Linked DNA regions of Homo sapiens: all the other regions are linked to region 2. The links come from fine-mapping of genetic effects on gene expression. A gene starts in region 2. Each other region holds a variant in brackets. All regions are shown on one strand. Distances are between the middles of the regions.

Region 1 (10,585 bases), 32 kb after region 2:
AAGGAACAGAACGGGGCCAGGCGAGATCTTAACCTTGAGCCCCCCATTTGCTGAGCAACGTCAGCTCCTGCCCTACAAAGATGGGACCGGACCGTAGAAACTGGATCACAGTATTAGTAAAGGAGGGGACAAAGCTCAGAGCCCTGGGCTTGAGTTCTGGTCCCTGCTCCCTCCCCTCCAGGATGGCCTCAGTGACTCCTGCCTTCCTCTTCCTCCTCTCACCACCCTGCCTGTGCTTCCAGGAATGTCTGCAAAGTGTCTCGTGTGTGCCATCACTAGGCTAAGTGCCAACAGGGTGAAAGCAAGCCCTCTTGTCAGGTTTGGATCCTCTCTGAGCCTCAGTTTCCTCCTCTGGAAATGGGATAAGGAGGGTAGACCCTGCCCACTAAGTGAACATGGAAGGAGAGCACTTTTTTTTTTTTTTTTTTTTGAGATGGAGTTTTACTCTTTGCCTAGGCTGGAGTACAATGGTGCGACCTTGACTCACTGCACCTCCGCCTCTCAGATTCAAGTGATTCTCCTGCCTCAGCCTCCCAAGTAGCTGGGATTACAGACGTGCGATACCACGCCTGGCTAATTTTGTATTTTTAGTAGAGACTGGGTTTCACCATGTTGGCCAGGCTGGTCTCAAACTCCTGACATCAGGAGATCTGCAGGAGAGCACTTCTGAAGCACCAGTTGGGTGCCTGACACACAGCAGAAGCTTTCTGCTGCCCACACACCCTCTGTACCTGGGGAGAACGGCTGATGTGAGAGCCTGGGCTGGAAGGGAAAGAGAACCCGGAGGCCAGAGCAGCTGCTGCGTTTGCATTGCTAAAGCAGCCCTGGGAGCCCCTGGTTCGCTGTGGATGCCCCTGATGGCAGCGGCAGGATGGGGTAAGGAGAGAGTCCAGGAGAAAGAGGCTCCCTCCAGGCACAGAGGACCCGGGAGCACCTGCAGTGGTGGATAAATGAATTGAAGCTGGAAACTACCAACCAGAAGTGGCAGAGGGTGGACCCGAACCGCGGTTGGCAGCTTTGGGGACAGTGAGGACAAAGAGCAGAGTGTGCGACTCCACTGGGGCAAGTCTGGAAGAATGGCATTGCCTCCCGGGGCAATGCCTGCACCTGACTTCTGCAAAGGCCAGCAGGGAGGGCACGGAGCTCACACCCCCGGGAAGATGGGAGCTGGAGGGTGGTAAGAACTGGTGATGCATGAAGTCTGCCCGGAGGGGCTGGGGCAGGAGGGATGGGGGTAGAGCCCAGGAATGGATGACCCACAGGTGGCACAGTCAGCCCTGCCCGCAGGCCCTTCAACAGCAGAGGCTTCCCAGGCCCTCCTTGTTCTCTGTATTTCGGCACCTGGGATCCCTCCCAGAGATCTCCTTCTTTGCTTTCTGGATCCAGCTCCCATGTACCCAGCTCAGAGAGGCCCTCTCTGACACCATGGCTTTCTTCCCTGACACCTCTTTTGCCTCTGCCCTCGTCATCTGTAGGTCCCCTGAGCTTACTCCATCTCTTCGTCAAGGCCAGCTGTGTGAGGCCGGGTGCCTCTCGGCCTGTTCCCTGCCCAAGCCCCAGCCTCTAGCACAGGTCCCCTGACATAGTAGGCCCTCAATAAACATTTGCTGAAGGGCTTACCATTTATAGGGCCCTTTCACACCTGTCATTAAATTCATTCATTCAGGCTGGGTACAGTGGCTCACGCCTATAATCCCAGCACTTTGGGAGGCTCAGGTTGGCTGATCACCTGAGGTCGGGAGTTCAAGACCAGCCTGGCCAACATGGCAAACCCCCACCTGTACTAAAAATACAAATTAGCCGAGAGGCGGAGGTTGCAATGAGCCGAGATTGCACCACTGCACTCCAGCCTGGGCGACAGAGCTGAGCACCTACTATGTGTCAGGCCCTGTACAGAGGCTGGGAACACAGCAAGCTAAACTCTTAGCTGGGGAGATCAGCTGTTATGCTGTCATGACCTGTTCAGGAAGAAAGGAAGTAGAAATCAGCAGGGGGCTTAAAAGCACAGAGTTGGGCCTTCGTTCAGTTCCAGCTCTGCCACTTACCAACCTCTGCGAGCTTGAGCTGGGTGCTCCAGGCTTCGGTTTCCCCAGTGGGGATGCCAAACAGAGGAGCTGTGTCATGGGGTTGTAGAAGGCACAGAGGGGGCCGGGCGTGGTGGCTCACGACTATAATCCCAACACTTTGGGAGTCCGAGGTGGGTGGTCACAAGGTCAGGAGTTCAAGATCAGCCTGGCCAAGATGGTGAAACCCTGTCTCTACTAAAAATACAAAAAAAAAATTAGCCGGGCATGGTGGTAGGCTCCTGTAATCCCAGTTACTCGGGAGGCTGAGGCAGAGAATTGCTTAAACCTGGGAGGCGGAGGATGCAGTGAGCCTGGATTGCGCTACTGCACTCCAGCCTGGGTGACAGAGCAAAACTCCATCTCAAAAAAAAAAAAAAAAAAAAAAGAAGGCACAGAGGGACCGGTGTGGGTCTGAGGCGCTTTGAGTACCAGGAGAGGTCTCTCTCTTGAGAAGGCAGCAATCGCCATGATTCCTGCCATGAGAGTAGGTTTGGGGGCTCCTGCCTGACTTGAGGGGTCAAAGTGGTGTTCCCAGAGCAGGCGCTCCCTGCGGCTGGCCCGTCCTCATCCTCATCCTCTCATGGCATTGGGCACAGCAGGCCTCCCGCCTCACAGCACACTCCGCCTCTTGGTACCAGGACAACATGCCCTCCTTGTTCTGTCCCACCCCATAGGCAGCTTTGCTGGGTCACCCCCCTCTTGGTGACCTCTAAATTCTGGCACATCCCGGGCCCCTTCCTCCGAGCCCTTCCGCGCTCTGTGTGTGCTCCTGCAGCAAAGTTTCTGCTCTGCGGGTGGCATTCCCTGTCCACAGATGCTGCTGCTCAGACCCCTCCCCAAGCTCCAGACCATGGTCCACAGCCCCACGTGGGGGCCTGAGGGTGCCGCCACCTCATGCGTCCAGAGCAGTGCTCAGTCCCCGAGTCCTCTGCGTCCCAGCACACGTGCTCCAGATGCTCAGGCCCAAGCCTTGGAGTTGTGCTCGGCTCTTCTCTCTCCCCACATCCATCCCTCAGCAAGCCCTGCACTCAGTCTGTCCCGGATCCAGCCCCTTCCCCGGGGCTTCCTAGGCGTCCCAGGCTGGGCTCCATCACCCTCTCCTGGAATATAGGTCTCTGCTGCCACACCCTGGCTTCTGTCACAACCTGGCGTCTGTCTTTATGCTGTCTGTCCTGCCATAGCATAGCCCCTGTAGGCGGGGGACTTAGTGTCCCCAGCACCTGGGGGAGCCTGGCACGCAGTGCATGCTTGTGGAAGGAATGACAGGATAAATGCATGCGAGGACCTGGAAGATAAGGCAGAAGTGGCCAGGATGTGAGGTGGGCAAGGCCACATTATTGCTCCCATTTTACAGAGCAGGAAGCTGAGGCCCAACAGGCTTCCTGAGCTGCTGATGGCAGCACCCCTGGTGTGCACAGCTGGATCTCAGCCCAGGCCTGGTGACTCCCTGTCCCACCACCATCTACTAGGGAGGGGAGACTTGGACCACAGAGAGCTGGGCGTGTTGGGAGAAGCCACACTCGTGATTCATCTGAAAATCACAGTTGAAAGGCAAATGTTGGCCCCGAGGACAGAGCGCTCAGTGGGCAGGGATGGGCAGGGAGCAAAGCAGCCCCACCCCCATAATGTAATGTGAGTTTTCAAGAAGGCTCCCTCCCTCCTCCACGGGACCCCTTGCCCCGGCCCAGCCTCCCCAGCACCCCCAGGAGGCCTCTCTCCTGGAGATCCTGCCTCCTCCCCTTGCCAGCCCCAACCTACAGTCCACCCCGCATCTGTGGCAGCAGAGGGAGGTTTATACAATGCAACTGCAGCCACTTCCCTGGTGGCCCCCACTGCCCTTCGGGTAGACACCATGGCATTTGGCCTTTCGTGGCCCCACCCGTGCCAGCCTGTGGCTCATCTCCTCCTTTCTGTCTAACTGTCCATTCTTCTGTGCATCCATGACACTCCTGCCCCCGAGCTGTTCGCAATGTCTAAGATACCTTCTTAGACTGGGAGAGCTTTGAAGTTCCTCCCGTGTCTTCAGAAGACAGCGCAAGATGGCCCTGAGACGTCTGCTTCAGTCCCCTGCAGACTTGGGGCCCCTTCTTGGGATCCCCAGTGGCACTCACTTCTCTGGCAACCCCATCAGTCTCACTGACAGAGCCTCGAGGCCAGGCGTGGGTCTTGTTCACCACAGGGTCTTCCATGCCCAGCCCAGGCCCAGCGCGTAGGAGGGCCAGGGAGGGACACCAAGAGCTAACTGAGCTCCAGGGACCTTGCTTTCCAGCCCCGGCAGGTCCAAAGAGCTGAGCCCAGGTCAGCCTCGCGGGAGACCCACTGCCCATGAGCTCACATCCTCAGCCCTGGTGGTGTCCAGGTCGGCCAGCTCAGCGAAGAGACAGACACTAGGTCCCCAGCTGCCTTGACAAGAGGAGGCACTGAGGTGCACTGGGGCAGACCACTACCTCTGACTGTGACGGTGCCCTCAAGAAGCAGGTGGTGCAGGGGAGGCAGCCCTGGATTTGAGGACACACATCTGGGTTTGATCCAAGGACAGCCTTTTACCAGCTGGACAAGCCTCAGCTTCCCCCTCCTGTTTTTGTTTTGTTTTGTTTTTGAGATAGAGTCTCACTCTTTTTGCCCAGGCTGGAGTGCAATGGTGCAATCTCAGCTCACTGCAACCTCCACCTCCCAGGTTCAAGCAATTCTCTGCCTCAGCCTCCCGAGTAGCTGGGACTACAGGTGCTCACCACCACACATGGCTAATTTTTGTATTTTTAGTAGAGATGGGGTTTCACTATGTTGGCCAGGCTGGTCTCGAACTCCCGACCTCAAGTGATCCACCCACCTTGGCTTCCCAAAGTGCTAGTATTACAGACATGAACCACTGCACCTGGCCCCCTGTCTGTTAAACGGGCAATTCCATGCCCACCTCCTCTGGCTGTTATGAGAATTAAATGAAAATAAGGACAAGTCCCAGCAGACTTCGTAAACTGTCAAGTGCTACACAGACGCCAGCACTGCTCTGTGTCTGTGAGGCTCACACGTTCTAACTAAGCAGAGGAGTCAAAACTCCAGCTCCTGTCTCGTCAATATCTTGGTGAAACACAGACCTGGATTCAAATCTTGCCTCTGCCACTTCCTGGCTGCGTGGCCTCGGCAAGTCACCTGCCTTCTCTGAGCCTTCACTCCCTCATGTACAGAACAGAGAGGATGGAAAGATTCACCTGCGGTTTGTGGAGGGCGCGTGAGAGAAGGCAGGTCAGGTGTTGAGAACCCTACCTGGCTCCATGCTCTGAGCCATTATGTGCTGTGACTGGGGGTGGCGCCGGCTTCTGCCTGCGAGTTAAGTAGCTCTCAGCAGCTAATCCCGCAGTAAATGGGCTGGGGTTTGGCAGGAGGCCAGGGTTTTTAATTAGCTTCTGCCCTGAGATGAGGCAGTTGTGGCTCCACTGTCAGCAGTGGCCGTGTGGTGCCTGCAATGAGGGGGGATGTCCAGGCCACCTCCCTCTGCCTCCAGAGGGCTGCCTGTACCGCCTCGTGACTCCCCAGCCTTCACCTTCCCAGCAGGCCCGGCCCAGCCTCCACTGTGACCAGCGGGAGCTTTCTCCAGCACAGCTCTGACCCTGGCGCTCCCACTTCGAGCCCTCAGATGTTTCCTATGCTCTTCATGCAGCCAGCACGGCCACGCCACGCCTGCCCCTCCCAGGCAGGCTCCTCTCTCGGGCCACACACTGACCTTCTCTCTCTCTCTCTTTTTTTCTTTCTTTCTTTTTTTTTTTTTTTTTGAGATGGGATCTCGCTCTGTCTCCCAGGCTGGAGTGCAATGGTGTGATCTCGATTTACTGCAACCTCCGCCCCCTGGGTTCAAGCGATTCTCCTGCCTCACCCTCCCGAGTAGCTGGGATTACAGGCGCCCACAACCATGCCCAGCTAGTTTTTATATTTTTAGTAGAGATGGGGTGTTGCCATGTTGGCCAGGCTGGTCTCAAACT[C/T]CTGATCTCAGGTGATCCACCCGACTCGGCCTCCGAGTCCCAAAGTGCTGGGATTACAGGCATGAGCCACCGTGCCTGGCCTATGCTGACCTTCTCCACGTGCCTCCAGACCTCCAGGCCTTGGCACCTGCTGTTCCCTCTACCTGAGGCTCCCTCCTCCCTCTTTTGCTAAATGAACTTCTTGCCCTCAGGATTTCACCTTCAATATCGCTTCTGCCCAGTGGGGCATTGGTTTCCTCCTCATGTGCCAGAGGCTCTGTGCCTGGCAATCAACCCACATACCATGTTTCGGCAAAACCACTGGTTCATCCTCCATCTCTTCACTGGTCCCTAAACTCCAGGAGGGTAGGGACGGTGCCCACCTCCTCACACTGCCTGGCTTGCCAGTGCTATCAAGTGTGTGTTGGTTGAGCAAGGGCCTTCTAAGCAGCACCTCCTAAGCACCAGGCACCTACTCCTTGTGCCCTCATTGTAACTTTGCATCAGTCTCACAAAAGAGGGTTATTGCTGAAGAAACCAAGACCCATGGCCGGGTGCAGTGGCTCACACCTGTAATCCCAGCATTTTGGGACGCCAAGGCGGTGGATCACCTGAGGTCAGGAGTTCGAGACCAGCCTGTCCAACATGGTGACACCTCATCTCTACTAAAAATACAAAATTAGCCGGGCGTGGTGGCACACATGCCCGTAGTCCCAGCTGCTCAGGAGGCTGAGGCGGGAGAATCGCTTGAACCCGGGAGGCAGAGGTTGCAGTAAGCTGAGATTGCACCATTGCACCCCAGCCTGGGCAACAGAGTGAGACTCCATCTCAAATAATAATAATAATAATAATAATAATAATAATAATAATAATAATAAATAAAACCAAGGCCCAGAGGGGAACTGGCTCGCTCGAGGCCAGAGCCAGTGACAGCAGAGGAAGACTGGACACTGGACCTGGCTGGCACCACTAGGGGCCCACCCATGGCTGCTGGCTCGGTCCCTGGGGCCCTGCCCCACTGGCACTGGTCCCAGTAGCTTGGGTCCCTACCAGCCAGGTGCTCTGTCCAGGGACATCACCTCGTGTGGGCCTTTTCCATTTCCTGTGTCTCCAGGTGCAGGAATGGCTTGATGCAGGTCTTGTAGGCATTTGCCATGTTTCCCTGGAGAGGGTGAGTGGGAGGGACTGAGTGATGAATCTCTGTGTGACCTCATGACAATCTGCCATCCTTTCCCCTGGGGGGTCTGTGCGGGGAGGAAGACGAGAGCCACTCATCCCTGGCCCTGACTCCTTTCTCCCTACAGAAGCGGATGCGGGGTCCAGGGAAGGACCCCACCAGGAAGTGCCCAGATCCAAGATCTGCCAGCAGCCCCAAGCAGCATCCTTCAGAATCTGTCTACACAGTGAGTCCCGGGGCCCCCGGCTCCCTCCACCTCTTTCAGGCCTTAGGCAGAGTCTGTCTTGTACCAGGGTCTGTCTGGCTCAGTCTTGTACCAGCTGTGTGGACTCTCCTAGCCTCAAGTTCCTCATCTATAAAATGGGGATAACAATTCTTACCTCATGGAATTTCTCTGAAGCTGAAAAGAGATGACACGTGCAGGGCTCCTGGAAGGCATACGAATGTCAGGTGCCCCCCATGCCCTGTTCCCCTCCTTGGCATGGATCCTCATTCTGGGACAAGGGGTAGTGACGGCACAAGTTGGCGAAGAATGAAGAAAGCTCCTTCATCTGACCAAACAGCTCTTACCACTTCCTCCTGTTTTTATTGTATAAACAACAAAAATCACAAAAAGAGGAAGAGGTCAGGCGCCATCCCACGCCCTTAACACATCAGTGATTTGTAATGATTTGCTCTCTCCCCTCCTGGCACATGCAGATATTATCTTACATGGTCACAATCACAGCGCAGACATGCGTTGGGACCCTGTTTGTTCCACTCTCTGCTGTGTTGTAGGCATTTTCTGAAACAATTTTCCTGGAGATGTGGGTGCATCTCCAGGAAGTGGAAGGTGGGTGCAGCGTAGGGGCCGAGGAGGCCAGGCTGCCCCAGCCTGGCCAGCCAGCCAGCATGCAGCCCTCTGCCCAGCGGCTGGGGCCGGGGAGGGCTGGGAACACTCTTTTTGCTACGTTCCTTTCGGCTCCACGAACAACATATGCTCCAAGTAGAGCAAGGGAAGAAGAAATGCCACCCAGTGCCAGCTGGGGTCCCCATCTCGTGAGATCTGGCACCGCCAGGTGGGCTCCCCACTCCACGCCTGGAAGGCACACAGCCCTTCTGGGGCCCTGCAGGTTCCCAGGTGCACGCTCCCCAGGTGCACGCCCCCCAGGTGCACGCCCCCTGGCTGCGATGGTGCTTGGGTTCTGCTCGTACGTGCTGTCGTTTCTGTTCCCACAACATTGACTCACCCTAATAACGCCACAGAACACCACACAGAGGACGCCCAGGATACAGCCTTGTCTGCTGAGGATGGGGCGGGTGGCAGCGAGGCCAAGGAAATGTCCCTGTGGGGCAGTGCCAACAGTTCCAAGTGGAATGTGATGGTTCTCAAAGGGCTTTCAGCTTCCCCATCCTGGGGAGTTTCTGTCAGCCACGGTTTTGCACGTGGCCGGAGACTTCCTCATACTCTCTCCTGTCTCCCAGCATCTCATAGTGGTATTTTCCCTACCAGGGATTCTGGTGTCAACTGTTAGATGAAAATATTTCTCTCTCTCCCTCTCACTCTCACTTTCCCTCTCCCCCAGCATACACATATGTGAGATATATATATATATATATAAAAGAAGAAAATAACCAGCATCCTAATCCCATCTTCTTCCAGGATAAATACTAAGAACATTGACTAATATATTTTCCAGTATTTTTTCTATAAATATATACAAAGAAACCCATACGCACTCACACATACTTCTTTTTTAATTGGAGCAATACAGCTATTTTTTTCATGAACATCTTTCCACGTGAATAAATATCTTTCTATGAGATTATGTTTAACGGAAGAGCTCTTTTGAGCAGAGCTTCTTTTTGCCTGGGTTTCACAGCCTCTAGGATGCAGGCCGACTTCTCTGGAGTGAGGTGAACAGACCTAACTGCCTGCAGAGTTGCAGGCCAGCTTGGAGAGTAGAGGTCATAGAACTTTGCCAAGCCCTTGACATAAGGGTCTACCAACTGGGATTGGGCCTGGGCGGAGAAGAGTGACAGTCACAACGATGATGGTATCAAGAGCCATTTGTTGTGTACCTACTATGTGCCAGGGATCATGGCAGGACTTTACACCTGTTATATTTTATCAATCCTCTTGATAAGGTTTTAGGGTAAAGGTTTTGTCCCCATTTTCACTTTCTTTACTTTTCTTCTTTTCTTTCTTTTTTTTTTTTTTTTGAGCAGAGTCTCGCTCTGTCGCCCAGGCTGGAGTGCAGTGGCACGATCTTGGCTCACTGCAAGCTCTGCCTCCCAGGTTCATGCCATTCTCTTGCCTCAGCCTCCCAAGTAGCTGGGACTACAGGTGCCCGCCACTGCGCCCGGCTAATTTTTTTGTATTTTTAGTAGAGACGGGGTTTCACCATGTTAGCCAGGATGGTCTCGATCTCCTGACCTCGTGGTCCGCCCACCTCAGCCTCCCAAAGTGCTGGGATTACAGGTGTGAGCCACCGCGCCTGGCCTTCCTTTGGATTTTCTACGAACCCAGTCATGTCATCTATGAATAATGCAAGTTTTACTTTTTCCTTTCCAATCCTCATTATTTTATTTTATTTTTATTATTTATATTTATTATTATTTTTTTTTGAGACAGAGTCTTGCTTTTGTCGCCCAGGCTGGAGTGCAACGGTGCAATCTCAGCTCACTTCAACCTCTGTCTCCCCTGTTCAAGCGATTCTCCTGTCTCAGCCTCCTGAGTAGCTGGGATTACAGGAGACCACCACCATACCTGGCTAATTTTTTTGTATTTTTAGTAGAAATGGGGTTTTGCCATGTTGGCCAGGCTGGTCTCGAACTCCTGACTTCAGGTGATCCACCCGCCTCGGCCTCCTAAAGTGCTGGGATTACAGGCGTGAGCCACCACGCTTGGCCTGTTTTATTTTTTTTTTTGAGACAGGGTCTTTCTCTGTCACTCAGGCTGGAGTGCAGTGGTGTGATCTTGGCTTACTTCAACCTCCACCTCCCGGTCTCCAGCTATCTTCCCACCTCAGCCTCCCGGGTGGCTGGGACTATGAGTGTGAGACACTGCACTTGGCTAATTTTTTAATTTTTTGTAGAGACAAGGTCTCACTATATTGCCCAGGCTGGTTTTGAGTTTTTTAATTTTTTGTAGAGACAAGGTCTCACTATATTGCCCAGGCTGGTTTTGAGTTCCTGGGCTCAAGTGATCCTCCCACCTTGGCCTCTCAAAGTGCTGGGATTACAGGCGTGAGCCACCGCACCCGGCCCAATCCTTATACCTTATTTTTTTTCCACTTTATTGCACTGCCTGAGGCCTCTGATACAATGATGGTGAATAGAGGTGGTGATAGCAGGTATCCTTGTCTTGTTTCCCAGTCTCCGGGGAAGGTTTTTTTTAAAATATA
Region 2 (10,585 bases):
CTGGCCAACATGGTAAAACCCCGTCTCTACTAAAAAATACAAACATAGCCGGGTGTGGTGGTGGGTGCCTTTAATCCCAGCTGCTTGGGAGGCTGAGACAGGAGAATCACTTGAACCTGGGAGGAGGAGGTTGCAGTGAGCCAAGATCGCACCACTGCACTCCAGCCTGGGTGACGGAGCGAGACTCCATCTCAGAAAAAAAAAAAAAAAAAGACAAAAAGAAAAAATCATGCCACCTTTGTTTTTTGTTTCTTCCAGATCTTGAAGATTCCTTTTGGTGTGGCGGGGTTGGGGAGTTGGCACTAGCTCCTTGCTGCCTCCCAGAAACTGAGCATAGCAGGGGGACCATGGTATGTGTCCAGTAGAAAAGCCCGGGTCCCCTCTGTGACCTCAAGCAGGTGAGTCACTGTTTTTCTCCCTCACTAAATATGTCAGCTGAGGCGTATAATATCTGCCCTGATTAAAGGACCAGGTGAATTGCAGGAGAGCGCAGTGGTTAAAGCCAGGTCCCGGGAGCTGGAGCCCTTGTTCCACTGCGTCTTCGCTGTGTGGCCTTGGGCAAGTGGCTTGTGTTCTCTGAACTCCAGTTTCCTCATCTGCGAAGCAGGAGCAGTCATAACACCTCCCATACAAGGTTTCTATGAGGGCTGAAGTACAAGAAAAGCCTTTAGAACTGTGTCTGGCATCAAACAAATGCTTAAGAGCCAAAAATACAAGCAGCTGGAACTGAGAGGGGATTCTGGAGACAAGCCAGGCCAGGCTTCCAGCCCGGGCAGCCTGCGGGCAGATGGCCTCCAGGTGGGTCTGCCTGCCTCTGGTGGGGTCAGCACCACCCAGCTGCAGGGCCACTGCGAGGCACAAGACGGCCCCAGAGGTAAACCCGGCTGCTCCTAGGATGGAGGCTGCCCTTTTTGATAGTGAGGGTGTTTGAGAGAGAGGGTGGATCGGCCCCTGAGTACCCTGGAACCCTTTTTGCCTCAGTGAAGCCAGCTCAGAGGGTCATTCTGAGGGGTCCCTCCTGCTGGTCGGCTCAGCTCCTCTTGGTGCTGGAGTCTTTGGGGAGGAAGGAAGTGATTTTCGCAGCCGCAGCGGGGAGCAGAGGGATCTCCTTCCCACGGCACTTCTGCTTCCTGTGCAGAAAGGAACCATGAAGAGCTCAGGACCTCACTGTGTCCCGGCTGGAGGCCTCTCAGCTGCCACTTGCTGGCTGGGGCATTTGAAAATCCTGGATTGAGGCCGGGTGCGGTGGCTCACGCCTGTAGTCCCAGCACTTCGGGAGGCCAAGGCGGGCAGATCACCTGAGGTCAGGAGTTCGAGACCAGCCTGGCCAACATGGTAAAACCCTATCTCTACTAAAAATACAAAAATTAGCCAGGTGTGGTGGCAGGCGCCTGTAATCCCAACTACTCGGAAGGCTGAGGCGGGAGAATCACTTGAACCCGCAAGGCAGAGATTTCAGTGAGCTGAGATCATGCCACTGCACTCCAGCCTAGTGGAGTCTTTTTTGAGCCTGTCTCAAAAAAAAAAAAAAAAAAAAAGAAGAAGAAAAGGAAATCTTGGAGGTGGTCGTGGGTAGGGGATCTGTTTTTCTCCCTGGACAGGGAGCGCCTTGAGGGCAAAACCATGACTTATGTTTTGTCTGCCCAATGCCTGGCACGCAGTAGGCACATAATAAGTGTTTGTGGAACTAAACTGAAAACAGAGACCAGCTGGGCAAAGTGGCTCACACCTATAATCGCAGCACTTTGGGAGGCTGAGGTGGGCGGATCACCTGAGGTTGGGAGTTCGAGACCAGCCTGACCAACATGAAGAAATGCCATCTCTACTAAAAATACAAAATTAGCCGGGCGTGGTGGCACATGCCTGTAATCCCAGCTACTCGGGAGGCTGAGGCAGGAGAATCACTTGAACCCGGGAGGCAGAGTTTACGGTGAGCCGAGATCGCGCCATTGCACTCCAGCCTGGGCAACAAGAGAAAAATTCTGTCTCAAAAAAAAAAAAAAAAGAAAGAAAAGAAAAAGAAAACAGAGGCCAGTAATTGTGGTCTCATTTGGAAAGCCTTAGTCTTGGTGTCGAGGAGGCCCCTGGGGACTGCAGGGGACACCTGGGCTCCCCCATTTCCCCACCCAGCTTCCACCTCCTTCAGGGCTGCCACTCAGAAATTACTTTAACCTCCCTGTTCCTCAGTTTCCTCATCTGTACAATGGAGGTGATTAGAGTGCCTGCCCCATAGGGCTGCAGTGAGGATTAAACTGGCAAGGAGAGCAGGTCCCCTGGAGCAGTGTCAGGCGCTTGGAAGCTTCCCGGAACTGCTCTATTATTGCTTCACTCTGCTGAGGTTGCCGTGCCCCTAGGCTTCCCAGGGAGGCTAGGCTCTTTCACTTCTACAGCCTCCGTGAGGCCAGGGCCCAGGGCAGGGCAGGTGTTCAGTATACTGTGAGGCATAGATGCACGGATAAACGGGGAATGGACGGAGGTCTGGGCAAAAGCCAGTGGCTGAGACGTGTGGTCCCCAGGGACCTCACCTGCAAATTCAGCTGCCAAGGCCTAGCTCGAAGGCTGTGCCACTGAAGCTGCCCCTGGGACACCCACAGAGCCTCCTCATTCCTCTGCTCCGCCTTCAGCCTTTGGGGCCTTTACTGTTTATTCACAGCTCTGGCTGAGGGCACAGGAGAGGAAGCACATGAGAGGTGCTAGAAAGTTTTGGTAGAAATGAGGCTCCTGGATGCGCTGCGGTTTTATTTCTATCCCCCTGGCTCCCGAGGAGGATCAGGGCCAGACACGAGGCCCCGACAGCGCAGCCAGGGCTGCTGGGCTCCTTGCCAAGGTGCGTCCCTGCCTCTCCCCAGGAGGCTGCGTGGCTGCAGAGCGTCTCAGAAACTGGGCAATGAGCTGGGACCCTCAGCTGCTTCTTGTCCAGTCATGTCTGCGCTCCACAGCCCAGGGCCTGCCTGGGGAGTATGCACGCCTCCTCCCACCCTGCCTCCCAGAGGCTACCCCTTCCCTTGAGGCCTCTTGTGCACCAGCGTGGTGTTGGGCACCTGCCTTCATATCAAGCCTGGAGGAAGGCTTCTCCCTGCCTTATGCTCACCCATCCGTCCATTCCTGCACCCCCTGGGCCAGGCTCAAGAAGGAGAGGGGAGGAAGACAGGCAGCTCAGGCAGGCAAGCGTGGAAACCAGGTGTGCAGCAGGCTAGACCCAGACTCAGAGGCGGCAGAACTCCCGGGAGTCCGAGGTACAGAGTTGGGGTGTGGGGGGCACCGTGACAGGCTGAGAGGTAGGGTCAGTGAGCTGGCACAGGGGCAGGAGCGGAGGCGGCACCAGGGCTGGAAGAGCAGGCTCCCTTGTTCCGAGGCAGTTTGGCATTCAGCTGCCTCCCAGTGCCAAGTCGTAATGAGACTTGTAGAGGCACAGACCGATGCTTTTCCAATGCTCCCCGTGTACCCTGAGGCATTGACACGAGGTCTATCACCATGGCATCAAGGTGCTTAGACAACCTGCTACTCCCAGGAGCCAGGAATAGCGTGAAGCAGCGGGTCTGCATCTCACTGTGACATATGTGAGCATGTATCACTGTGATGGATCAACAGTCAATAACACTGGGGTCCCCGCCTGCCCCCTGCGCGGTAGGAAACTTCTCCTGTTCATATGTCTTCCTCCCCTGGTGGGCGGCCCCTGCTCTTGCCAGCCTCCCAGTGCTCGTGGCATTGGTGGAAACGTCTTTAGGCTTTCACTGTTCATGTTTGGAGCAGCCCAGGGAAAAGCATGTGTGCAAAGAACTGAAATGGATCTCATGATGCCGTCACCGGGGGCTGCAGCTGGACACACCTGAGCAGGCAGTAGCAGGGTGGGAGAAGGCTCGGACATCATACCACTGGCAGTTCAAATGCCCGCCCCACAGACCTGCCCTGATCCTAGGCATGTTGTTTTGCCTCCTGGGGCCGAGGTCTTCTCTTTTGTACAACTGGGATCATCACATTTATCTGGTGAGTGAAGGGACACCTGCAGAGAAGGGAGGTAAGCGCTCAGCATGCGCTGAAACTCAGCCACCTTCCCGCCTGCGTCTTCCATGTACCAGGTGCCTCCAGCTCCACCAGCCATCACCACACCCCAGCCCCTTTCCTCTGCCACTCCAGACACGCAGGCAGATGTGTGGGTGCCAAGGGTGAGGGGCTCCCAGTCTGCTGGGGAAGGGGGTCCCGGCAGCAAACAATTCCTGTCCCCGGCTGATGCTGCTAGAAGTGAGAGCAGGGGCTGTGACCTGCAGCCAATGGGGAAGCAGTTCGAGGGTCTCACAGTTGGGAGGCCGAGTGAGCTAAGCTTTAGGGCAGCCACAGGGAGGAGCTGACGTTAGAGATGGACCAGAGAGGAGGCGTCTCCTGGGCCTCTGCAGGGGACCCACAGAGGTTCTCGCTGGGTGAATGATGGGCAGCCTGCCTTTCACCTGCCCTGGGTGTTTGGCCCTCTCTAGGGCTGGGAACATGAGGCTCCTGCCCTTCACCCCAGCCTCCCTACCACCCCTCACCAAAAAACCTACCTTTGGTAAACACATTATTAAGGGATTCTCAGAATATTTTAGAGAAGTTTGTGTGAACATGCTTGTGGTCGTTTTAAAAGTGTTTCAGAAGTGAGAGGCTAAACCAAGGCCCGAAGTCACTCATGGAAATCCCATGATCCCTCTGCACAGTTACCAGTGTCTCCTGGACGGGGCCCCTGCTGGAAAGGGGCCGAGACAGGGTGAAGCCCACCAGGGGTTGGAGTGGGGAGGCTTGGGTCCCGTCTCCAGCTCTTCTTCTGGTTGTGTGGCCTGGACCAGTCTCAGTGCCAGGTTCCTCATCTGGCGGCCACCCTGCTGGGCTGTTCCAGCTTTGCTTCTGAGCGGAAGGTCAGGGGCTGCCAGGGAGGAGCTTCGTGGGGAAAGCAAAGGGGAAGCTGTCAGCGCCGGCCGTCCCCTCCTGTGAACTAAAGAGTCGCCGCAGACAAGCAGGCCCCCAGATGGAGAACCAGCCTGTGAGGTGGCGGGCCCTGCCAGGCCTCCCACGCCCTCCTGGGCTCCCCGCAGCCCCCTGGCTCCTCCTTGGCGTGCTGCTGCTGCCCGGGACCCTGCGACTGGCAGGTAGTGTCTGTCTTCCTCCTTCTCTCTACTCTCTCGCTCCAGAACATCAGAGCGGCTTTCATCCCGCCCGGCGCAGCTAATTCCCAGGGACCTGTCTCTGGGGATTTGCTGGTTGTCGTTTGAACGCTGCAGACTTCACAGGGGAAGCCTTCTGGGACCGAGAAGATGTTTAGCTAATGCCTTGCCAAGGTGGCTTTTGAAGGGGAGGGGGACAGCGCTCTCTCCCTCGCTGCTGTGACAGCTTTGCCCCAGCAGTCTGGCCTCCTGGCCCTTAAACAAGGAGGGTGGGCGCTGTGTGGCTGGGGCCAGGGGCGGGGCAGGGGGGAGGGACAGCTCCCCATCCGAGGAACCTCACGTGGCTGCTGCGGGGGACACTGCGTTGAACCTGGCAAGTGGTGGGGCTACCCTCTGGGTTGTTGCTGGCATTGGCCAGGGAGAGCGGGGAGAGGGGGGAGGGGGGGATACCAGGGCCAGCCACAGGGCTCTGCGCCCAGAGGCACAAAACTGTCAGTCACCAGAAAGGGTCTCACCTCCCAGTTCCTGAAACACAACCAGAGGCCAAGTGTTTTAGGATGCAAGTGTGTCTTTCCACGCCAGCGGCGCTCCTTTCCTGGTTCCAGGCTTTCTTGGAAGCTGGGTGGCCGGGATCCGAGCCAAGCTGTGGGGTAGGTAGCCTCAGGGCCAGTTCATCAGGCCAGGGACGGCCCAGGAGGGTCCCATTCCAGGGCTGCCAGCACGAGGGCTCAGTGAATTCTGCCAGATTCTCTCTGCCCCTCCTTGGCCGGGCAGCAGCCAACCCTCCCTCTGGCCAAAGGGGTGGCCTCCACTGTGGAGACAGGGTGCCTTCCTTTCTATTCTCTTAGTTTATGGGGCTTTCAAGAGCTGCCCCCACCCTGTCCTGCTGCACCCCCTCTCATGACCACAAATTAGGCTTTATGGAGCCCTTAGCAGGGCACGTACTGGCCACCCTCACAGCACCCCTTGGGGCTCCTATTGTCCTCACCTGCACCATTTTAAGGACAGGGAAAAGGAGGCCCAGGGAAGCCAGTTCGTTTGCTCAAGACCTAGCCGGTAAGTAGAGGCCAGCCTCAGCCCCAGGCCAGCCTCAGCCCCAAGCTGGGCCCCTCGGCCAGTAGGCTCAGAGGATCCTCTTACTTGTAAAGAATGTTCTTCACCGGAAACTTACCCTGGGGAGGCAAAGGCTGACCTGTGTGTACCTCCCCAGGCTGCAGCCCAGAGCCCTAGGACACCATCTCCTTTAATCCTGTGCACGCCTCGCCCCACACCCCAGACAGTTGGTGCAAACACGGCCAGACCCCGGAAATGCAGCCTGTTAGTGTCAATGTGTCTCAACTACAGTCATTTTTAATTTAATTTCCCCCCAATTCCCATCCTTTCCCTTTGTGTGGTTCCTCCTCCCCAAAAGACACCCAGCACACCCTGGTAACCGAGCAGTAAGAGGTTTTATGGGGTGCTACTGGGGAAAAGCTCTTTTGTAACAGTCTCAACTATAACAAAACATTCCCAGTGCCACCCCCTCCCACCCGGTATTGCAACAAACATTACATAAAAGAGAAACTGTTCTTTCACAAGAGGTGAAAACACCCTTACGGTGTCCTAGAGTCCCTTGGAGCAGCAGACAAACCCCCACCCATGATTTTTTTTTTTTTTTTTTTTTTTGAGAGTTTCACTCTTGTCACTCAGGCTGAAGTGCAATGGCGCCATCTTGGTTCACGGCAACCTCTGCCTCCTGGGTTCAAGTGATTCTCCTGCCTCAGCCTCACGAGTAGCTGGCACTACAGGTGCCCACCACCATGCCCAGCTAATTTTTGTATTTTTAGTAGAGACAGAGTTTTGCCATGTTGGCCAGGCTGGTCTTGAACTCCTGACCGCAGGTGATCTGCCCGCCTCAGCCTCCCAAAGTGCTGGGATTACAGGCGTGAGCCACTGTGCCCGTCCTGTTTTTATTTTTTTGAGACAGGGTCTCGCTCCGTCCACCAGGCTGGAGTGCAGTGGTGCAATCTCAGCTCACTACAACCTCTGCCTCCCTCACTCAAATGATCCTCCCACCTCAGCCTCCCGAATAACTGGAACCACAGCGTGTGCCACCACACCCAGCTATTTTTTAAATTTTTTCGTAGAGATAGAGACTCACAGTGTTGCCCAGGCTGGTCTCGAACTCCTGACCTCAGGTGATCCACCCGCCTTGGCCTCCCAAAGTGCTGGGATTACAGGCGTGAGCCACTGTGCCCAACCCCCAACCCGCTCTTTGTCCTACCCCTGTGCATCCCCCTTCATCTATCTGTCACTCCATGTCACACCCCTGCCTTCTCGTCTCAGAGCTTTGAGGGTTTGCTGGAAGGAATCTTGCCCCTCCCACATCTTCCAAACCTCCCCTGACCGTAACCATCAGCCTTAACCATCAGCCTGGTGCAACCAGCTCTGCCACCTGTCAGTACCAACCCAGCTTGCATCCCTCAGCTGTGTCCACAGGGGTGTCACTGAAGGCCAGCGTCCCTGATTCTGCATCGTATCCCTGAACTTGCGAGAGGATGCTGGCTTAGGAGTACAGGCCAGGGGCATTCATCTTCAGTTTGATTTTTTATTTATTTATTTATTTTGAGACGGAGTCTCGCTCTGTTGCCCAGGCTGGAGTGCAGTGGCACCATCTCGGCTTACTGCAACCTCCGCCTCCCAGGTTCAAGCGATTCTCCTGCCTCAGCCTCCTGAGTAGCTGGGATTGCAGGCACCCACCACCATGCCTGGCTAATTTCTGTATTTTTAGTAGAGTCAGGTTTTCACCGTGTTGGCCAGGCTGGTCTCGAACTCCTGACCTCAGGTGATCCCCCCACCTTGGCCTCCCAAAGTGCTGGGATTACAGGCGTGAGCCACCGCACCCGGCCCAGTTTGAATTTGAGCTCTGCTACTTGCCCAGGCACCCTGGGCAGATTACTTCTATCGCTATGCCTCAATTGTCTCCTCTGTTAAATGGATGTGATAACACTGCCTGCCTAAACACATCCTGAGGACTGAGTGCCCAGTATGTCATTAGTCCTCAGTGAGTGTCAGCCACCTGCCAGCCTCGCCAGAGCCATGGAAACTTGAGGTGCAGTTGGTGAGCCCACGGCCTCCAGCTCATCCTGGGTACCTGCTCCTGCTCCCAGCCATCCTCCTCCTCCCACTTGAGCCGGGACTTGGGCCTGTCCTCTGGCTTCTTGACCCCTCTGCAAAGCCTGCTTTTCTCAAAGGCAGCCACTGGTGGTCTCCCCAAGACAGGAATTGCTGGGGGCTTGGCTTTTCCAGGAGCAGCTGCAACTCAGCTTCCATGGGCCTCAGTCCTCCCCAAGGACTTTGGGGCTGGACAGACCTGAGTTCCAGGCCTGCCTTCTTCTGGTGACAGCTGTGTGACCTCAGGCAATTACTTAACCTCTCTGCACCTTAGTGTCCTCTGCAAATGTCAGTCCCCTCTCTGTGGCCTTTCCAGAACTCTGGGCTGTATTTATTTCTCACATATCCATTGAAAAGGACCGGTTCTAGGCACCAGAGGGACCCAGACGTGAACAAGCCATAGGCCCCACTCTCAGCCTGGTGGGACCGTGAGCCTTGGCCGGAGTTACCAGACAAGTTTGTTCTGGATCCAGGTGGTGTGCGCCTGTAATCCCAGCTACTCAGGAGGCTGAGGCAGGAGAATTGCTTGAACCTGGGAGGCAGAGGCTGCACTGAGCTGAGATCGTGCCACTGAACTCCAGCCTGGGTGACAGAGCAGGACTCTGTCTCAAAAAAGTAATAATAATAAAAAAAGATGTTCAGGAGCCCCTGCCTGCTCCCGGCTGAGACCTCCTGCCTCCCTTCCCGCCGCTCCGGACCTCTGTCAGGAGTAGCCTCTGTTTTTCATCTTTGTCTAAATCCCAATAAAGGACTTTCGAGGCACAGGCAGAGGTGGGCGGGGAGAGGCAGGGGAGTGCTGGAAAGGCTGCCCGCGGAGTGGGGACAGAGCGGGAGGTGGCTGAGGGAATGAGGGCTGAGAGCCCAAAAGGCAGGGCCAGGAGGGCCGGGAGAGGCTCAGCTTGACGGCAGGGGAAGTCTGACACAGGAGTGGGATGCAGATTGTGGTTGGGTGGATCACAAATGCCCCTCAGGTAGGGGTCCGGGCACACTCCCAGCGGGTCCTGTCTCACTGCTGTCTCCTCTGTCATGGTGAACTATCGCACAAAAACCGCAGTGCTGCGTGGTAAGCACTAGAAAACAAAGTCCTGTGTGACTCTCACCAGGTCAAGAATGAGAACATCCCAGTGCCTCAGAGCCCCTTCTACTCCCCTCGCCCCACAGACACTGCCCCGCTCCGTGCCCCACCAAAGGTACCCCCATCCCAGCTTGTGGGGGGATCACTTACTGGCATTTCTTTGTAGTTTTATCATTAGTACACATCCCGAAACCATATGGACTAGCTTTGCCTGTTTGTGAACTTTGTGTAATTGAAGGATACTGTGTGTATTCTCCGGTGACCCGCTTCTTTCACTGAGCATTATGTTTTTTAAGATAGATCCAGTCCACGATATGGCTGAAGTTCGTTTTGTTGCTATAGATAGAGCAAGAGTTGAAACCACGGCCGGTGGGCTAAACCCAGCCCACTGCCTCTTGTATGGCTTGTGAGTTATGAATGGTTTTTATATTTTTAAGTGGTTGAAAAAATCAAAAGGTACTGTGCGGACTCATGTGGCTTCTAATCCTTGACTCCCAGCACGGGACCAGCACCCAGCAGATGCTCAGGAAATGGTGACAATCAAGGATGAATTAAGCTCTGAGCAGGGTGGAGACGCGATGCCACAGGAGGGGCGCCTGGGGGAGGAGATGGAAGGGCTGGGTAGTCGTCCTCTGCCCTTCCTCTGCCCTCCCTGAGCCCTGGCTCCTCTCCAGCGTTGGTAGGGTAATGAGACCCCCTGTGTAGTGAATGGGAGGGAGGACACAGGCATCCTGGGGAAATGTGGACCCGGAGGCAGGATCTGACCCTCTGCTTGCTCCTTGTGGATCTAAGCAAGGCCATACCCTAGTGGGGACGTGGGCAACAGGACCCAGATGGGGCTGAAACCAGAGAAAGGGACGGGGTGAGCCTGGTGAGAGGGAGGGGAGGGGTATGGACATGAGATTGGCAAGTGGGGCGCCTGGGCTCCTGGTAAGGTCTGAGCAGGCTGGATTTGGGTCCTGGGAGCCTTTGGCCAAGTCTCTGGAGTACGCTGAACCTCCACGAGCCCCCCCGCCTGGGTGCTCAGCATCCTCCCAGACAGCAATAGGAAGGTACATCCAGTACCATGATGGCCTCAGGGCGTGGCACCTGGGACCCCTCAGGGAGGGTCTGTGAGGCTTTGGCCCTAGGGACAGGGCTCGAGGGCACAGTGAGGGAGGGGACTCAGTGCTCATCTTCGGTCGTGAGTCATGGGTCGTGGATCGTGGGGGTCCTGCCCACCAGG
Region 3 (10,585 bases), 50 kb after region 2:
CAGGTATCATGCAGGGGGCTGCTGGCTGCCAAGCCCTTAAGAGCCTAGGGACAGGCAGGGACAGCAGGAGGAGGCCTGGCCCTTTCTCTTGCCAGCCAGGTGGAAGCCTGGATAGAACCCTCCAGGTGGAATACAAGGCTCTACTGGAGGTCCTTAAGGGAGGTTAGGGAGGTGGCCGAGAACAGAGAGGGGTCAGCCCTTTACAGGCAGGGAAGGGGAAAGGTGACTCTGGGAAAGGGGGTGGCAGGTGCAAAGGTGTGGCTGGGCTTCACCCTCCCCTGGGCTCCCACGGTGGGGTGTGTAACAGGCAGGGGGCTGGCTGCTGGGGCCAGGGACTGCCCCTCTACACACTTGCCCCTGATCCTGGCACCCCGTTTCCTGTAGGCTCTGCAGCGCCGCGAGACCGAGGTCTATGCCTGCATCGAGAATGAGGATGGCAGCTCACCCACCGCCAAGCAGAGCCCCCTCTCCCAGGTACACAGGCGCTGGGGCACCAAGCCTGGCTTCTTGCTCCATCTGACCCTCCCATCACTGGTGAAGTGGGGGGGCAAATGGGACATGGAAGTGAGCCACCTGCTGTGGAATCCCAGCCATCTCCTGGTGGCAGCTGGCCTGCTGGTTAAGAGGACTGGTGCGTTTGAGTTCCTGCTCTGTCCCTTAGCCACTGTGCAGCCCTGGCCGAGGTGTCTGACTTCTCTGTGTCTGAATCTCCTTGTGTGCAGATTGAGCAACCTAACAGTACCCACCTCATAGATGTTCAGTGAGGGTAGAATGTACTGAGAGAGCTGCCTGGGACCCAGCTGTGCCCATGCACTATGAGCCACTGTAACTATCACTGGGCACAGTGTCCACATGGTCAGTCAGACAGGGGTGTTAGGCTTCCAGCTGCCCCCAGGTTGGTGTTGGCTAAAGTCTGGAGCTAGAGTGTGAGCTGGTAGAAGCTGGGCTGGCCTGGTCAGGGTTCTGTGATTGTCATGATAGGGCCTCAGGCATATTACCCAATCATACTTTCTCTCTTTTTTTTTGTTTTTGTTTTGTGTGTGTGTGTGTGTGTGTGTGTGTGTGTTTGTTTGTTTTTGTTTTTGTTTTGAGACAGAGTCTTGCTCCATCACCCAGGCCAGAGTGCAGTGGCGCGATCTCAGCTCACTGCAACCTCCACTTCTCAGGTTCAAGCAATTCTCCTGCCTCAGCCTCCCGAGTAGCTGGGATTACAGGCGCCCGCCCCTGTGCCCAGCTAATTTTTTGTGTTTTTAGTACAGACAGGTTTTCACCATGTTGGCCAGGCTGGTCTCGAACTCCTGACCTCATGATTCACCCACCTCAGCCTCCCAAAGTGCTGGGATTAAAGGTGTGAGGCACCGCGCCCGGCCCATACTTTCTCTCTTAAACCTGTTTGCTCATCTGTAAAGTGGATGAGCAGTGTTTTCCTGCAATACCAACTGCCTCTGAATTCAAATGTGTTCCAAGCTGAATAACATCTGCACCAGAGCTTCCAGCACCGTCAAGCGTGAGGCGTTGTTCAGCCAGAACAGGAGCCCACAGGCCTCTTGGAACATCTGTCAGGGAGTGCGGGCGCCTGGCACTTGGCCTTCTCTGGCTCGGGCTGGCACTATTTGTTAAATCGCCTGTTCTCAAAGCCCTTTCTATACTCAGCCCTCAACTAGACCCTGAGTGAAAGCAGGGACATCTCCGGCAGTGCCCACCCTGTGCCAGGCCCTGGGGTGCTGGACAGGAGAACTAGGCATGTCCCTACCCTCTGGGAGCCATAGTCTGCAGGAATAGGTCGCTGACCCCATGGACACACAGAGGCATTTGTAGCCCTGTTGTGAGGGGTGTTCTTCTGGGAGGGACCAGCCAGGGTGGGGAGGGAGGGAGGGGGTCCCTGGGACCCTATGATGAGCCCGCAGGCAGAGTGAGTAGGGGGCAGTCATGGAACAGGTGTGTCTGTGGGAGGAGGCGCATCCCACACATAGGGCAGAAGGCAGAGGGCAGAGCTGTGGGGGAAGCTCTGAGGCTGGAAGGGCAGGCCCATGTGGCTGGAGGGCAATGGGCAGGGGTGGGGGCAGCATGGTGGGGGAAGAGGCTGGGGAGGTGGGCTTGGAGACAGAGGGCAGGCCCCCCATCAAAGCTACACAGGAAGTGATCTGTTGCCCTCTGGCTAAAACTAAATTAGTGCAAGTTCATTCTTAATGGTCATTCTCTCTCTTTCTCTCCTTCCCTCCCTTTCTTCTTTTCTATCCAGGAGAGACCGCATAGATTCGAAGATGATGGCGAACTTAACCTGGTCTATGAAAATCTCTAGGATGGGCTCCACCGCTCATAGAGCTTGCCCTGGGTCAGAGGACCGGGGCAGCCCCTGCCACCAAAGGACTTGATCTGAGTTGGGAGTAAGGCCCCCAGGGACACCCCATCATTTCACCCTCACATTCAAGGCCCTTCCTGTCTTGGCCGGCCCCACTGCCCCCCCATTCTATGCCCCAACCACCAAGGCTTTCCCATCTTGGGGCCTTTGCCCAGGCTGTTCCTTCTGCCAGGCAGGCCCTTCCTCCCTTGGCCCAACCAGCAAAGCGCCCCTCAGTCTTCAAGGGCTTTCCTGGATGCCACCCTTGCCCAGAGCCCTGCTCACTGCCTCATGCTGACAGAGCAGCATGCTCTCTTGGCACCAGCCTGCACCTCAGCCAGTAGGGCAGCCTCTGAGCTGAGGGAGGACCCTGCAGGGGCGCCTAGCAGTGCTGTGTGGGGAGCCGAGGTATGGAGGAGCTGGGGAGCAGCTATGCAAATCCCTACCTACCCAGCTGGGCCAGAGGCACGAGGCAGCCAGGCAGGGTGGGAGCAGGGGCTGGCGTGGGAGGTCTGGGGGACAGACAAGGATGATGGACCCCTCAGAGGCAAGACTAGGATCAGGGACAGATCTGGAGGCCCAGGACATGGCTGAGAGGTGGTCAGCAGGCTGGGGGCATGGAGCAGAGAGGGCTTGGGTACAAGCTGGAGAGGAAGGAGATTCTGGCATGTTGGGGTGAGGGCAGAGGGACAGATGAGGGGAGGAGGGTGCTGGCTAAACAGGAACTGAATGAATGGCCTGAAGCTCCCTCTCCCAAGGGTTCCCACTCCCATTGGCCTGGCCCTGTACGTGCACTCTGTCATCTCCTTGGTCACCCTCTGCTCCAGGCCTTCTCCACCACAGGACCTCAGCTGTCCCTCCTTCTACCCAAGGTGGAGTCCCCCAAAGTCCCTTCTGTCTGGCCTATCCTGTGCCCACCACCTGTGGCTTCATCCAGCCCTCCTCCTCTATCTTTATCTGCCATAGGCCGCAGCCCTGGCCCCCTGTGGATTGAGGTCCCAAGTGGTCCAGCTGTGGGGTTTGGTGCTGGGACCCTCAATGGCAGCCGGAAGGTCCCTCTGAGGCAGAAGCTCAAGCCCCATGGGGACAGTGGCTCCCCAGTGCCTGGCCCTGAGCCATTTCTGCTGTTTCAGGTGCCCACATCACCCTCATTTCCTCCTCGCAGTAGCCCTGCACCGTGGCCAGAAACCCATCCACAGGCAGGCAGTGGCTGGGGTCCGGGTGCCCCGGGCTGTTGGGCTCTGCTTCCTCCCTCTGCTCCCCCATGTCTCCCTGAGTTCTCCCACCTTTGCTCATTTGTAAAATGGGCAGGTCAATCTTCCCACCCCACCGTGTGGGCTGCCCCAACCCCAAATGTGCCCAGGGAGGGGGGGGAACCCAAGGCACAGGCCCCGCCCCTGCCCCCAAGCAGCACTGGGCTACTGGCTCACAGAAGCACCTTTGGTTCTGCAGGTCATGCCCCTCCCTGCAGGGAAGGGAAAGCTGGTGGTAGAGGCTGGGCACAGACTGACGTCCAGAAGAAGTCCCTTGGCCCTGCTAGGGTGGCACCAGACTTCTCTGGTCCCACAGGACAGCCAGTGGCCTCCCAACTTGGTTCTGGGCCCCCGCCTGCAAGCACACATGGCAAGGAGGGCTTTAGCAGGCTCACATAACCGAGTGGCAAGGCCCCTGCTCCCAGAGGCTGGATTTGAATGAACTCCGGGCCTGTTTGGGGAGGTGAAGCTGCCAGGTGTGCACAGGGGCCTCCCAGGCTCCTGGCTCCACCAGCCAAGGAGGTGGGGGCAAGGGTCAGGGCAATGGGGGACAATGCCGCTCAGGGTGCAGTGAGCTCCCCTGGGAAAACCGAAGCCAGCAAGACCAGGAGAGGGCCACCTCACTGGGCCTGCCTCCCCCACCTCCTGGGCCTCTCTGACCTCAGCTCCTAGACCCTGGACCCTTGGCTGGGACTCAGCATTTTCCAGTCTTTTTCAGGGGTAGACAGGGGAGCCTGGGTTAAACTTTACCACTGTGCCCTGGCCCAGGCATCACCAACACGGCCTCCCTGCAGCTGCCCTGCCACCGACAGACCCCGATTAAACCCACACCTGGCCTTGGCCTCCCCTGCTCTATACCTTGCATGGTTTTTGCCTCACTTGGAATAAAATTCCAACTCCTCCCTGTGGCGTAGGAGGTTCTTGGGGGCTGACCCATCACCCCTCTGGTGGACAGAGACATTGCCAGCGTGGTGGTCGTCTGTGCTTGGTTCAGGGCAAGGCTGGGAGGCAGTGGGTGCTGAGGTCTTCAGTGAGCAAGGAGAGAGGCAGGGAGGAGGAGGAGGAGGAGGAGAGCACAGCATGAAAGGACGGGACCCTAAAGGGCTTTGGCCCAAGGGAGGGTGGGGCAAGAATGTTCTGAGACTTCTGTGGGCAGCAAAGAGGACTGAGCACCTGTTCTCCAGCCCCCAGGACTGAGAGCCTGCAGAGACAAGCTGGCACAGGGCGAGGGGTGGCAGGGAACTTCAGGGTGGGAGGTGCATGGGGCAGGCGGGAGGAGGAAGAACAGAGAGGGGACAGAGAGGGTATGAATGGGAGCTCCTGGGGTGCAGGCTTGCTTTCCACTATGAATGGGTGGAGGAGGGAAGAGAAGAAAATTGCTTTTGAGACCCACCCAGGCTGGGTGGCCTCAGGGCCTCCCTTGAATCCCTGCTCCACCTCCCACAGCCTTGTGGACTTGGGCAAGTCACTGGCCACCTGAGCCTCAGTTTGCAGTGACAGTCAAGACAGCTCAGGCCAGGCGTAGTGGCTTATGCCTGTAATCCCAGCATGTTGGGAGGCCGAGGCGGGTGGATCACTTGAGGCCAGGAGTTTGAGACCAGCCTGGCCAACGTGGTGAAACCCCGTCTCTACTAAAAATACAAAAATTAGCCTGGTGTGGTGGCACGCACCTGTAGTCCCAGCTACTCGAGAGGCTAAGGCAGGAGAATCTCTTGAACCTGGGAGACAGAGGTTGCAGTGAGCCGAAGTGGCACCACTGCACACCAGCCTGGGCTACAGAGCACGCTCTGTCCAAATAAACAAACAAACAAACACTACTCAGTGTCTCAGAAAGGACAGAAGGGGACTCCCTGGCTCAGGCAGAAGCTCAGTGGGTGTGCATTTCCTTCAAGACTCGTCCTTCAGAAGGAATAGGCTTCTGGGGCAGTACAGAGGAGTCTAAGTGAGAGGCAGGCCTCCCTGGGAGCTGGGCCCAGGCTCTCTGCAGCCATGCCTTTAAGGAGTGCCTACGGGGTAGCACGATCAGATGGACAGGCCAGGGCTGCCCAGAGCTGGGGGTGGGAGCAAGGTAAGCAGAGAGGTGAGGGAAGGAGGGTGCTGGCTTAGCAGGAGCTGAATGAATGGGCCTGGAGGGGAAAAGCTAAGGGGGATGGGGTGGCTTGAGTGGAGTAGGTGAGGCCTAGGTGAAGGGGAGCTGTGGACCTTCCAGGACGGACGGATGTGAGCAGTCCTGAGTGGGGACTGGAGTTAGGG[T/C]GGGGAAGGGAAGCCCCAGGCAGCCCCTGCAGGCCCCTGCCCCTGGGCCCTACCGCAGCAGGGCAGCCCTGTCTCTGGGTCTCAGCTGATGCTTCCCTCTGCCCACTGGCCCCTGACCTGGTGGGATTTCCCACCATCTCTCCCGGCCCAGCCTGCCCTGCCCTCCTAGGTCTTCCCAACCTCCCCTCTGCAGAAACATCTCAGCCACGTCTGGCACCCCCAGGCATCCCTGCCTGCCTCTAGGAAGTTGACCCCTTCAATGGGTTTCAGCCTCCAACCCCACCCCCGCTTGACTCCTGCTCTGTCAGCACTTGCTTGAGAAAATCATCCTGGGAAACCAGCTTCTGGGAGCAGGGGCCTTGCCACTCGGTTCTGCGAGCCTGCTGAAGCCCTCCTTGCCACGTGTGCTTGCAGGCGGGGGCCCAGAACTAAGCTAGGAGGCCACTGGCTGTCCTGTGGGACCAGGGAAGTCTGGTGCCACCCTAGCAGAGGGCCCATGGACTTCTTCTGGAGGTCAGTCTGTGCCCAGCCTCTACCACCAGTCCAGAACTTGCAGTGGGTGCGGTAAACGGTGGCCCCTCCTCAGCAAACATTTCCAGGGGATTCTGGCAGCAGAGTTTCCATGGGAACATGTGCTGGTTCTGCGCTGAACCCGGTGTGGCTGGGGTTCCCTTCACAGCCAATATTGCAGGAACTGAGCCTGGTGGCCTCGGCCAGGGTAGGCAGTGCTCTTTGGCCACCCAGTGTCACAAACCTGAACTCAAGTTACAGGCAAAACCTGCTTTTCCTTTTTCTTTCTCTCTCTCTCTCTTTTTTTTTTTGTTAAAGCACATTCTAATGTAAAGTCCATGCTCCATTCTAAAGATGCCTCTGGGATTTCAGGGATGGATTTTTATGTAGTTCAATAGTTTTCTTGGCAGACAGCTTATGCAGGAGAGGTGGGCCGTTGGCTCAGTCCAGCCAGGCTGAGTGGCGTCACTCCATTCCTTGCAATGCCAGGGGATGTCATTTGTCCACCTGAGGGGGCTTCCCCAGTCTCCCTTCCCTGACCTGTGGTCAGAATGATGGCCTCAGCCTTGACTGAGCGCGGGTCAGGCCAGACTCTCTGAACTTGGTGTTGGCGTGTGTTTTGTGTGTGTCTGGAGGTGACATATGTGGGTGACAGAAGCATATGTTACAGTGAAACATTAAAACTACAGCAAAGTGAAACTCCTCTGATGCACCTGCCACCTCCCAGCCTCCATACCCGTCCCCTCCCCAGTAGTAACCAATCGGGTCATTTGGGAGTGTTTTCTTCGTCGCTGCTTTTATGGCATCTAGGTGTCTACCTGTGAACATGTAAAATGTGGAGCGCCGTGCGGGCTTCCGAACAGCCGCGATGCATTCATTTTGTAGGTGTTGTTTGCACTTGCTTTGTTGATGCAGCCCCACGTGGTGGGATCTGCCGGAGACAGCACACAGGAGCTGCCAGACTCCAATTACAGCAAAGGATCCTGCAGGACAGATGGATCCTAATTTAATCAGGCCCCCTATCGAAGGCCTTTTCAGTTGTTTATGATTTTTCAACCTCACATAAGGGGCTGCAGGGAACATCCTTGTACACACACACATCTGCAAAACTTTCCCTATGGGAAATGAGGAGGGATTCCTGGGACCCAGTGCATAGAAGTTCACTGTTCTAACAGTCACCACCAAATCGCCAGGCCCCGAGGTTGGACTGGTTTCTATTCCTCGGACTCTTTATCTAGAATATTTCATTTAATCCTGAAAATAGGTCTGTGATGGTGGGCAGGGGTGATCTCCCCATTTTATCGAAGCAGAAGCTACCACTCAGAACAGCTGACTGGCTCCAGGTCACACAGCCCAGGAGGAGCAACGCTGGGCTGCCTCGGCGTGTGTGCAGTCCTGCTGTCCCCAAGGGCATGTGTGCAGTCCTGCTGTCCCCAAGGCCAGGTAGGGGAGGTGATGGGGGAGGCAGAAAGAGCCATGGAGGGATGTGGTGTCCCCAGGAGTAGGGAAGCCCACAGAAGAACAGGTTTCCTTCAGAGATGGGCTGGCAGCCTCACATTCCTCTTATCCAATTTCTCAGAAGTGTGTGTGTGTGTGTGTGTGTGTGTGTGTGTGTGTGAAGTTGGGGGGGTCCTCCTGCCTCCCGGTATTCTATCTCTTTGGGGAAATGGAGGCAGATCCATAGAGCCCCAGGGGTTGGGCCTCCCCAGCAGCCCACGCCCACTGTGAGGCCTGGATCCTGGCAGCCTGTATGCTCTGATCCCAAGTCTACCCTGGAAATTCCCAGGCACAGCATGCCTGGAGGTGTGAGCCGCCTCTTAGAAGCTTTATAATCCCGGATAATGCTGCTGTAATTGGCATTGTTTTTCCATTACAATCCTTTCATTACCTGAAAACTGACTTTGCAAATGGCTATATCTGGAGTGGGTTTTATTTTACCACTTTGAGGACCTTGAGGGGCCGAGGAGTGGGGGCATTTTCTCTGTCTCTCCCTTGACTGCCCCATCCCCATCCCCCAGTGAGTTCCACAGGCCCAAGTGGGCCAGATCCTGGCCTTGGCTCAGGACATAGCCCTGTACCTTGCTGCCCGCCATGGGCTGATCCAGGGATGTCTCTTCTCCCCAGATGCCCCTTCTGTCCCCCTGCCATCAAGTCCACCCATAAGAGCCTCCCTCCAACCCCTCCTCCTCCCAGCCATTCCCAGTCCAAACAAGTCTCACCTGATCTTTCTATAATACATATCTGACCACATGATTCCTCTCTCAAAAGCCTGCCATACCTTATGGTAATGGTCAATTCATTCCAACAAGGGGGCCACCATCATTCAATGGGGAACAGTCTTTTCAACAATTGGTGCTGGGAGAGCCAAACCTCTACATGACCCCTACCTCACACCCTATACCAAAACTCACAGTGGTTTCCACTGTCCATAGGATCGGGGCTCAACCCCTTAGTCTCACATTCAGGGCTCTTACCACTCCTACCACTCCTTCACTTTTTTTTTTCTTTTCTTCTTTCTTTCTTTCTTTTTTTTTTTTTGAGATGGAGTCTCTCTGTGAGGCCCAGGCTGGAGTGCAGTGGTGTGATCTGGGCACACTGCAATCTCCACCTCCTGGGTTCAAGCAATTCTTCTGCCCCAGCCTCCCGAGTAGCTGGGACTACAGGCACGTGCCACCAGGCCCAGCTAATTTTTTTTGTATTTTTAGTGGAGATGGGGTTTCACCATATTGGCCAGGCTGGTCTCAAACTCCTGACTTCAAGAAATCCACCTACCTCGGCCTCCCAAAATGCTGGGATTACAGGTGTGAGCCACTATGCTTGGCTTTTTTTTTTTTTTTTTTTTTTTTTTTTTTTTGAGACAGGGTTTCCCTCCTATCACCCAGGCTGGAGTGCTGTGGTGCAATCTTGGCTCACTGCAACCTCTGTCTCCCAGGTTCAAGCAATTCTCCTGCCTCAGCTTCCCAAGTAGCTGGGATCACAGATGAGTGCCACCACGCCTGGCTAATTTTTTGTATTTTTAGTAGAGACAGGGTTTCACCACGTTGGCCAGGATGGTCTCAAACTCCTGACCTCAAGTGATCCGCCTGCCTCAGCCTCCCAAATTGCTGGGATTACAGGTGTGAGCCACCACACCTGGCCATCCTTCATTCTTTTAACAACATTTGTCCCGCTCCAACTATGTGTCAAGCCCAGTGCTGTGGCTGGAATAAGAAATGGACAGTCCTGTCTTCATGGAGTCCACCAGCTCATTTCTGATTGGCTCCTACTGGCCCAAAGTCACCCCAGCTCCATTCATGCTTCCATCTATGGCTGCTGTTCCCCAAGATGCTGAGCTCCCCACCTCTGAGTCTGGGCTCCTACCATTCTCCCTGCCCTGAGGACCTGCACCCTATTCTTTGCCTGAGGAATTCCTGCTCAAATGCTACCTCCAGCTGGGCACAGTGGCTCACGCCTACAATCCCACCACTTTGGGAGGCCAAGGCAGGCAGATCACCTCACGTCAGGAGTCGGAGACCAGCCTAGCCAACATGGCAAAACCCCATCTCTACTAAAAATACAAAAATTAGCCGGGTGTGGTGGCACATACCACAGATATCAGCCACAGAGTAAAACTCCATCTCAAAAAAAAAAAAAAATGCTACCTCCACTGTGAAGTCTTCCTTAAAGCCCCCTCCCACACCAAGCAGTTTACTGAATCCTCTCATTTCTTTGACCTCTTCAAACTGAATCAGTTCACACACATCCATCTCCCCCCAGAATTCCCGTGTTTCCCAAGCATGGCAAACACCTCATTTGTCTCTCTTTGTCTGTGCCTGACTCACAGTAGGGGCTTAGGAGCTGTTTGTTCAAAAAATAAAGGAGTCTTTTCCTTTGCTGTTGATTCAACACCTGTTCTTAGTGAAAAAGGGATAATTTTTTTTTTTATTTCCAGGAAGTGATCTTTAATTAGTATATGACCCATTTTACATATGTGAAAATTGAGGCAGACTGTTGCTGCACCCACAACACCAGGAGAAGCAAGGCAATAAGAAGTGCAGGCTCTGGAAGGCCGGCAGCCTCCGCCTAATGGGGAGGGCGGGGAGGCTCTGTGCTGAGCTGTTGGAGGCGAGGCCAGGCACAGGGGAAAGGCCGACATCCCCCTCCCCCACCTCCTTTCAATTCCTGGCTGCCAAGGCTGTCAAGAGGCTCTGAGGACACGTGCCTGCGTCAGGGGCCATGAGCCCTGTTA

The links. PIP is the estimated chance that this variant, and not a neighbour inherited with it, causes the effect.
Region 1: its variant is fine-mapped to the expression of NFAM1 in whole blood (TOPMed, PIP above 0.99).
Region 3: its variant is fine-mapped to the expression of NFAM1 in whole blood (TOPMed, PIP above 0.99).

What each region holds. Positions count from the first base shown.
Region 1 is chr22:42,394,698-42,405,282 of GRCh38, reverse strand. NFAM1 (NFAT activating protein with ITAM motif 1) reads left to right here. Exons shown (of 6, transcript NM_145912.8): 4 at 7,327-7,425. Among named protein-coding and RNA genes, the nearest start is that of LINC01315, 31 kb to the right of the region's middle. RefSeq lists a silencer at 8,166-8,460. The variant C/T (reference allele first, on the strand shown) is at 6,044.
Region 2 is chr22:42,426,769-42,437,353 of GRCh38, reverse strand. It overlaps NFAM1 (NFAT activating protein with ITAM motif 1), which reads left to right and starts at 4,951. Exons shown (of 6, transcript NM_145912.8): 1 at 4,951-5,117. The coding sequence starts at 4,997.
Region 3 is chr22:42,376,878-42,387,462 of GRCh38, reverse strand. It overlaps NFAM1 (NFAT activating protein with ITAM motif 1), which reads left to right. Exons shown (of 6, transcript NM_145912.8): 5 at 385-474; 6 at 2,243-7,056. The coding sequence ends at 2,302. Among named protein-coding and RNA genes, the nearest start is that of LINC01315, 13 kb to the right of the region's middle. The variant T/C (reference allele first, on the strand shown) is at 5,848.